Linked DNA regions of Homo sapiens: region 1 is linked to region 2. The links come from fine-mapping of genetic effects on gene expression. A gene starts in region 2. The other region holds a variant in brackets. All regions are shown on one strand. Distances are from middle to middle. Region 1 overlaps ZNF114-AS1 (ZNF114 antisense RNA 1). Region 2 holds the start of EMP3 (epithelial membrane protein 3 (MAM blood group)).

Region 1 (2,908 bases), 57 kb after region 2:
TGCAGTGAGCTGAGATAGCGCCATTGCACTCCAGCCTGGGTGACAGAGCAAGACTCCGTTTCAAAACAAACAAAACAAAACAAAACCCAAAATGACTGCCTAAACCCAGACCTCTAGGACACAGACTCAGTTTCCCACCCTGACTCTGCTTAACTGGGGAGTCGCTTGATCTTCAGGTGCCCCTGATGCAAATCAGCTGAACAAAGCGTTTATCCTCTACTCGAGTTACATCGTTTCTTTTCCTTTGAGGGTCCCCAGCAAACCTTGATGTGCATCTCTTTTTCTTTTGGTTCTTTGGGAGGAAAGATTAAGCCCAGCCCAGCCAGCTCCTGGAGCTCCCCAGGAAGGAAGGGCTGGGAGTCCCTATCTGGTCAATTAAATAATTTATTTATTTATTTATTTTGAGACGGAGTTTCGCTCTTGTTGCCCAGGCTGGAGTGCGATGGCGCAATCTCAGCTCACCACAACCTCTGCCTCCCGGGTTCAAGCAATTCTCCCACCTCAGCCTCCCGAGTAGCTGGGATTACAGGCACACGTCACCATGCCTGGCTAAGTTTTGTGTCTTTAGTAGAGACGGGGTTTCTCCATGTTGGTCAGGCTGGCCTCGAACTCGCAACCTCAGGTGATCCACCTGCCTCGGCCTCCCGAAGTGCTGGGATTACAGGCATGAGCCACTGCACCCCGGCCTAAATAATTTATTTTTTATGGACTGTCTTTCTTCACTCTAGTAATGAAATTCTACCATAAAGCTTAAATTGCCAAATATTGATCATACTTACCCCAGTTACATTTTTTTACGGTGATAAAATATACATCACAAACATTTCCATGTGAACCATTTTTTTTTTTTTTTTTGTGACGGACTCTCCCTCTGTCACCCAGGCTGAGGTGCAGTGGCACGATCTTGGCTCACTGCAAGCTCTGCCTCCCGGGTTCACGCCATTCTCCTGCCTCAGCCTCCTGAGTAGCTGGGACTACAGGCATCTGCCACGCCCAGCTATTTTTTTTGTATTTTTAGTAGAGATGGGGTTTCACCATGTTAGCCAGGATGGTCTCGATCTCCTGACCTCGTGATCCACCCACCTCGGCCTCCCAAAGTGCTGGGATTACAGACATGAGCCACCGTGCCCGGCCTCCATGTGAACCATTTTAAAGTGTACACTTCAGTGGCATTAAGTACAGCCACATCGCTGTGTAACCATCATCACGATTCATCTCCAGAACTTTGTCATCTTTCCCAATTAAAACTCCGTACCCGTTAAATAATCACACCCCATTCCCTTTTTCTCTCAGTCCCTGGTAAGCTCTGTTCTACTTTCTGTGTCCAGGAATTTGACTGTTCTAGGAATCTCCTAGAAGTGGAATCACTCGGCCTTTGCCTTTTTGTGTCTGACGTATTTAATTTTGCACAATGTTTTCCAAGTTCACCTACGGTGAAGCATGTATCAGTATTTCATTCCTTTTAAAGTCTGAAAAGTATTCCACGGTATGTAGTGTTCAAAAGTAAAATGTATGGCTGGGCATGGTGGCTCACACCTGTAATCCCAGCACTTTGGGAAGCTGAGGCGGGCGGATCACCTGCGGT[C/G]AGGAGTTCAACACCAGCCTGGCCAACATGGTGAAACCCCGTCTCTACTAAAAATACAAAAATGAGCCAGGCATGGTAGTGCATGCCTGTAGTCCCAGGTACTCGGGAGGCTGAGGCGGGAGAATTGTTTGAACCTGACGGGGAGAGGTTGCAGTGAGCCGAGATCGTGCCACTGCACTCCAGCCTGGGCAACAGAGTGAGACTCTGTCTCAAAAAAAAAAAAAAAAAAAAAAAAGTACAATGTGACATAAGAAAATTTCTGACCTCGGGCTGGGGGCGTTGGCTCACACCTGTAATCTCAGCACTTTGGGAGGCTGAGGTGGGCGGATCACCTGAGGTCAGGAGTTCAAGACCAGCCTGACCAAAATGGAGATACCCCGTCTCTACTAAAAATACAAAATTAGCCGGGCGTGGTGGCGCATGCCTGTAATTCCAGCTACTCGGGAGGCTGAGGCAGGAGAATCGCTTGAACCTGGGAGGCGGAGGTTGCGGTGAGCCGAGTGTGCCATTGCACTCCAGCCTGGGCAACAAGAGCGGAACTCCATAAAAAAAAAAAAGAAAATTTCTGACCTCTTCCCCAAATAAACTACCTGCACGTAAGCCCTCATTTCAGGCTCTCCTTTTTGGAGGCTCCCAAATTATGACCGAAGGAGTCCAAGGACTTGAGAAGAACCCTGTTAAACCTTGGTTCAGGTCTGGGCTCAGGGCACTAAAGGATATTCCTCTTGCGACCTCTAGTGGTTGTAGGTGTCCAATTCCCTTCTATTTTCTCTGGGTCTTCATCTCCAGCAGTGCTTCCCTTCCCTTGTTTTCTCATCCTCTCCCTTCAAAAACCTGCTTCTTGGCCAGGGGCGGTGGCTCACGCCTGTAATCCCAGCACTTTGGGAGCCTGAGGCGGGCGGATCACGAGATCAGGAGTTCGAGACCAGCTTGGCCAACATGGTGAAACCCAGTCTCTACTAAAAATACAAAAATTAGCTGGGTGTGGTGGACGCCTGTAATCCCAGCTACTTGGGAGGCTGAGGCAGGAGAATCGCTGGAAGCCAGGAGGCGGAGGTTGCAGTGAGCCAAGATTGCGCCACTGCACTCCAGCCTGGGTGACAGAGCGAGACTCTGTCTCAAAAAAAAAAAAAAAAAAAAAACCCACAAAAAACCACAAAAAAACCTGCTTCTTTTCTGGTATCCTCAATATCCCGTTTCACCTATGCCTTCACTGCTAGGTGGATCTTTTTAAAGAAAATTGGGAACATTATATTATTTCACCTGTAAAAATATCACTACGATGGCCAGGTACAGTGGTTCATGCTTTGAGAGGCCGAAGTG
Region 2 (2,899 bases):
CACTCCAGCCTGGGTGACAGAGAAAGACTCCGTCTCAAAAAAAAAAAAAAATTTGGCATAAAGGCAGGTGAGATGTCTCCTGATGGAGGAAGGGCATGGGTGCAGACTCCTGGGTCTCTCAGGGAGGAGACCGCTGGGGCCTGGATTCCTGAGATCCCCATTGGCTGGAGGGGTGGAGAGGGCCAAAGATGGACTCTTGGGTTCCTTGAATGAGGAGGACTAGCAATGTGGCTCCTCTCTCCCCAGAACCCTGACTCTGGGTTACATACAGGCCAGATAGTGAAAATTCAAGTTGAGACCCCACCCTGCACCCCGACATCAGGATTGAGGAGCTGCCCCCAGCAACAGGCATTCTTGACTCACACCACTCCTCTCCTGGGTTGAGGGGAGGAGGGGGACCTGGTGAGTCATCTGGTGACTCATCCCCACCCCCCCCCATCTCTAAGCACCAGGGAAACCCCAGCCCCTGGCTATGTCCACGAGGTCCTCACCCCACCCTGCTGCCAGACTGGTGACTGTTGGACATCTTCTGGAGGAAATGGATAGGATTCGCGCTGGGGGGAAGAGAGGCCCAAGAAGGAGTTAGCCTCCCAGGACTCTTTGGTGCCCAGGAACAGGGGACCTAGAGGTCTCCCAGATTTGGGGTGTTCTCATGCAATGCCCTGATCTCAGGGACCCCAGAGGACAGTGGACACCGCTGAGGGAAAAACTGCAGGAAGTTTTCCAGTGGAGGGCTCTGCTGGGACCCCAAAACTTTGCCGGGCCCCACCCCTTCCCATATCCCCACCTCAAGTGCTAAGAGATCACTTATTAAATTAAAAGGATTTCCAAGAGTCAGGGACGTCTCTCCCAGCCTGGGGGTGTCCTTCCCAAACTGCTACATTCCCAAGTAAATTAAGAAGTCCCAGCCCTGAATAACGGACTGGAAACTTACCGAGAGCCGCGAAAAAAGTCAGAGCTGGAGTCGGAGTCTTGTCCCTCGCTCGGGCCTCCGTGCCCCGCCCTTCTCCTCCCTCCTTTCACCCTCCCGAGGCCCCCGCCTCTCTCACCGCCTTCCTCCCTCCCTTGCTCTCCCCTCCAATCCAGAACCCTTTCTCTCTCGCTCGCTCTCCTTCTGCGTCTCTTCTCTCCCTCCTGCCCTCACTGTCTGGGCCTCCTTCTCTCTTGCTCCCGTTTCTCTTTCTCTCCTCCTCTCAATATATACTGACCCTTTTATAAACCCACCCTCACCGCACCCAGCTGAGGTCGGCTGCCAGTGGGAGGGCCCAGGCACTCCGGTTCCTCTTTCTTTGGGCCCCCACCCAATCCCTCCAGACAGACATCATCTGGGGCTCCCTCCCAGGGTTGAGATGAGAAACTCTTGGAATGGGGTTCTTGGGGGGGGCAAGCGTCAGGGGTGGGAGGGCCCGATTCTCAGGACCCTTGAGTTTTGAGGTCTTGCCCTGGGGCCGGATGTCTGCTTTCCCTGATGGAGCTTGGAGCTGGATAGGAGTCTGGGAAAAGAGGCCAGATTTCTGTGGCATGGACTTGAGATTGGGCTGGTGAAGTTGGCCCCGTGGTGGGGGGTCAGAGGATGGGAGATGAAATTTGTGAAACTCGGCAGGGCGTTGTGGCTCACGCCTGTAATCCCAGCACTTTGGGAGGCCGAGACGGGCAGATCATCTGAGGTCAGGAGTTCGAGACCAGCCTGGCCAACATGGTGGAAACCCGTCTCTATCAAAAATACAAAAATTAGCCGGGCGTGGTGGCGGGCGACTGTAATCCCAGCTACTTGGGAGGCTGAGCCATGAGAATCGCTTGAACGCGAGAGGTGGAGGCTGCAGTGAGTTGAGTTTGCACCACTGCCTTCCAACCTGGGGGACAAAGTGAGATTCTGTCGCAAAAAAAAAACAAAACAAAACAAAAAACAAACAAACAAAAAAAAAAACCTTGTGAAACTCTGGAAGCGGGGAGGAAGCGGAAGCTAAGAATCCCAGCGCCATCATTTCCTGGTTCAGTGACCTTGAGCCAATTATTTCACCCACCTGGGCTCCAGTATCTTAGTCTATGTTGAGAGTATAATAATGCTGACAAAATACTAATACTGATAATAATAATTCTGATACTTATGCTGAATGAATAAGGTAATACTGGCACACTCACACACCTAACCTGTTCCTTCCTTCATCAAACATTTATTGAACATGTACTCTGATCTGGGAGTTAATAATGAAAACAGACATGAGCCCTGCTGGTATTATGGAGCTTGTATTCTAGTAGAGGAAGACAGACAAGAGAAAACATCAATGATGAAGATAAATCTCAGATAAGGATAAGTGACTTGAAAAATAAATACAATAGGCTGGACGTGGTGGCTCATGCCTGTAATCTCAGCACTTTGGGAGGCCAAGGCTGGAGGATCACCTGAGGTCGAGAGTTCAAGACCAGCCTGGCCAACATGGTGAAACCCTGTCTCTACTAAAAATACAAAAATTAGCCAGGCATGGTAGTGGGCGCCTGTAACCCAGCTACTCAGGAGGCTGAGACAGGAGAATTGCTTGAACCCGGGAGGCGGAGGTTGCAGTAAGCTGAAATCACGCTACTGCACTCCATCCTGGGTGACAGAGCAAGACTCCATCTTAAAGAAAAAAAAAAATAAAAGAAGAAAAGAAAAATAAATACAATAATAAATCAAACAGAGTGATGGAGATAATGACAGAGTGCAGGGAAGACTACTTGAAACAGGAAAATCAGGGAAGGCCTCTTGGAGGAGGTAACATTTGAGCTGAAGACAGGAGTCATTTGAACGCTGGGGTTGGGGAGTGGTGGGGGGGCGTCGGGGGGAGAGGAAGTGCAAAAGCTCTTAAAGCTTTTGAGAACAAGCTCAGGTTGTTTAGGGAGCAGACAGAAGGGCCAGTGT

Evidence for each region. PIP is the estimated chance that this variant, and not a neighbour inherited with it, causes the effect.
Region 1: its variant is fine-mapped to the expression of EMP3 in whole blood (TOPMed, PIP above 0.99).

What each region holds. Positions count from the first base shown.
Region 1 is chr19:48,266,611-48,269,518 of GRCh38, reverse strand. The region is part of intron 2 of ZNF114-AS1 (ZNF114 antisense RNA 1); the gene reads left to right. Among named protein-coding and RNA genes, the nearest start is that of ZNF114, 2.0 kb to the left of the region's middle. RefSeq lists an enhancer at 2,377-2,426. The variant C/G (reference allele first, on the strand shown) is at 1,586.
Region 2 is chr19:48,323,646-48,326,544 of GRCh38, reverse strand. It overlaps EMP3 (epithelial membrane protein 3 (MAM blood group)), which reads right to left and starts at 993. Exons shown (of 5, transcript NM_001425.3): 1 at 935-993. RefSeq lists enhancers at 110-179, 470-519, 1,120-1,169 and a silencer at 1,747-1,978.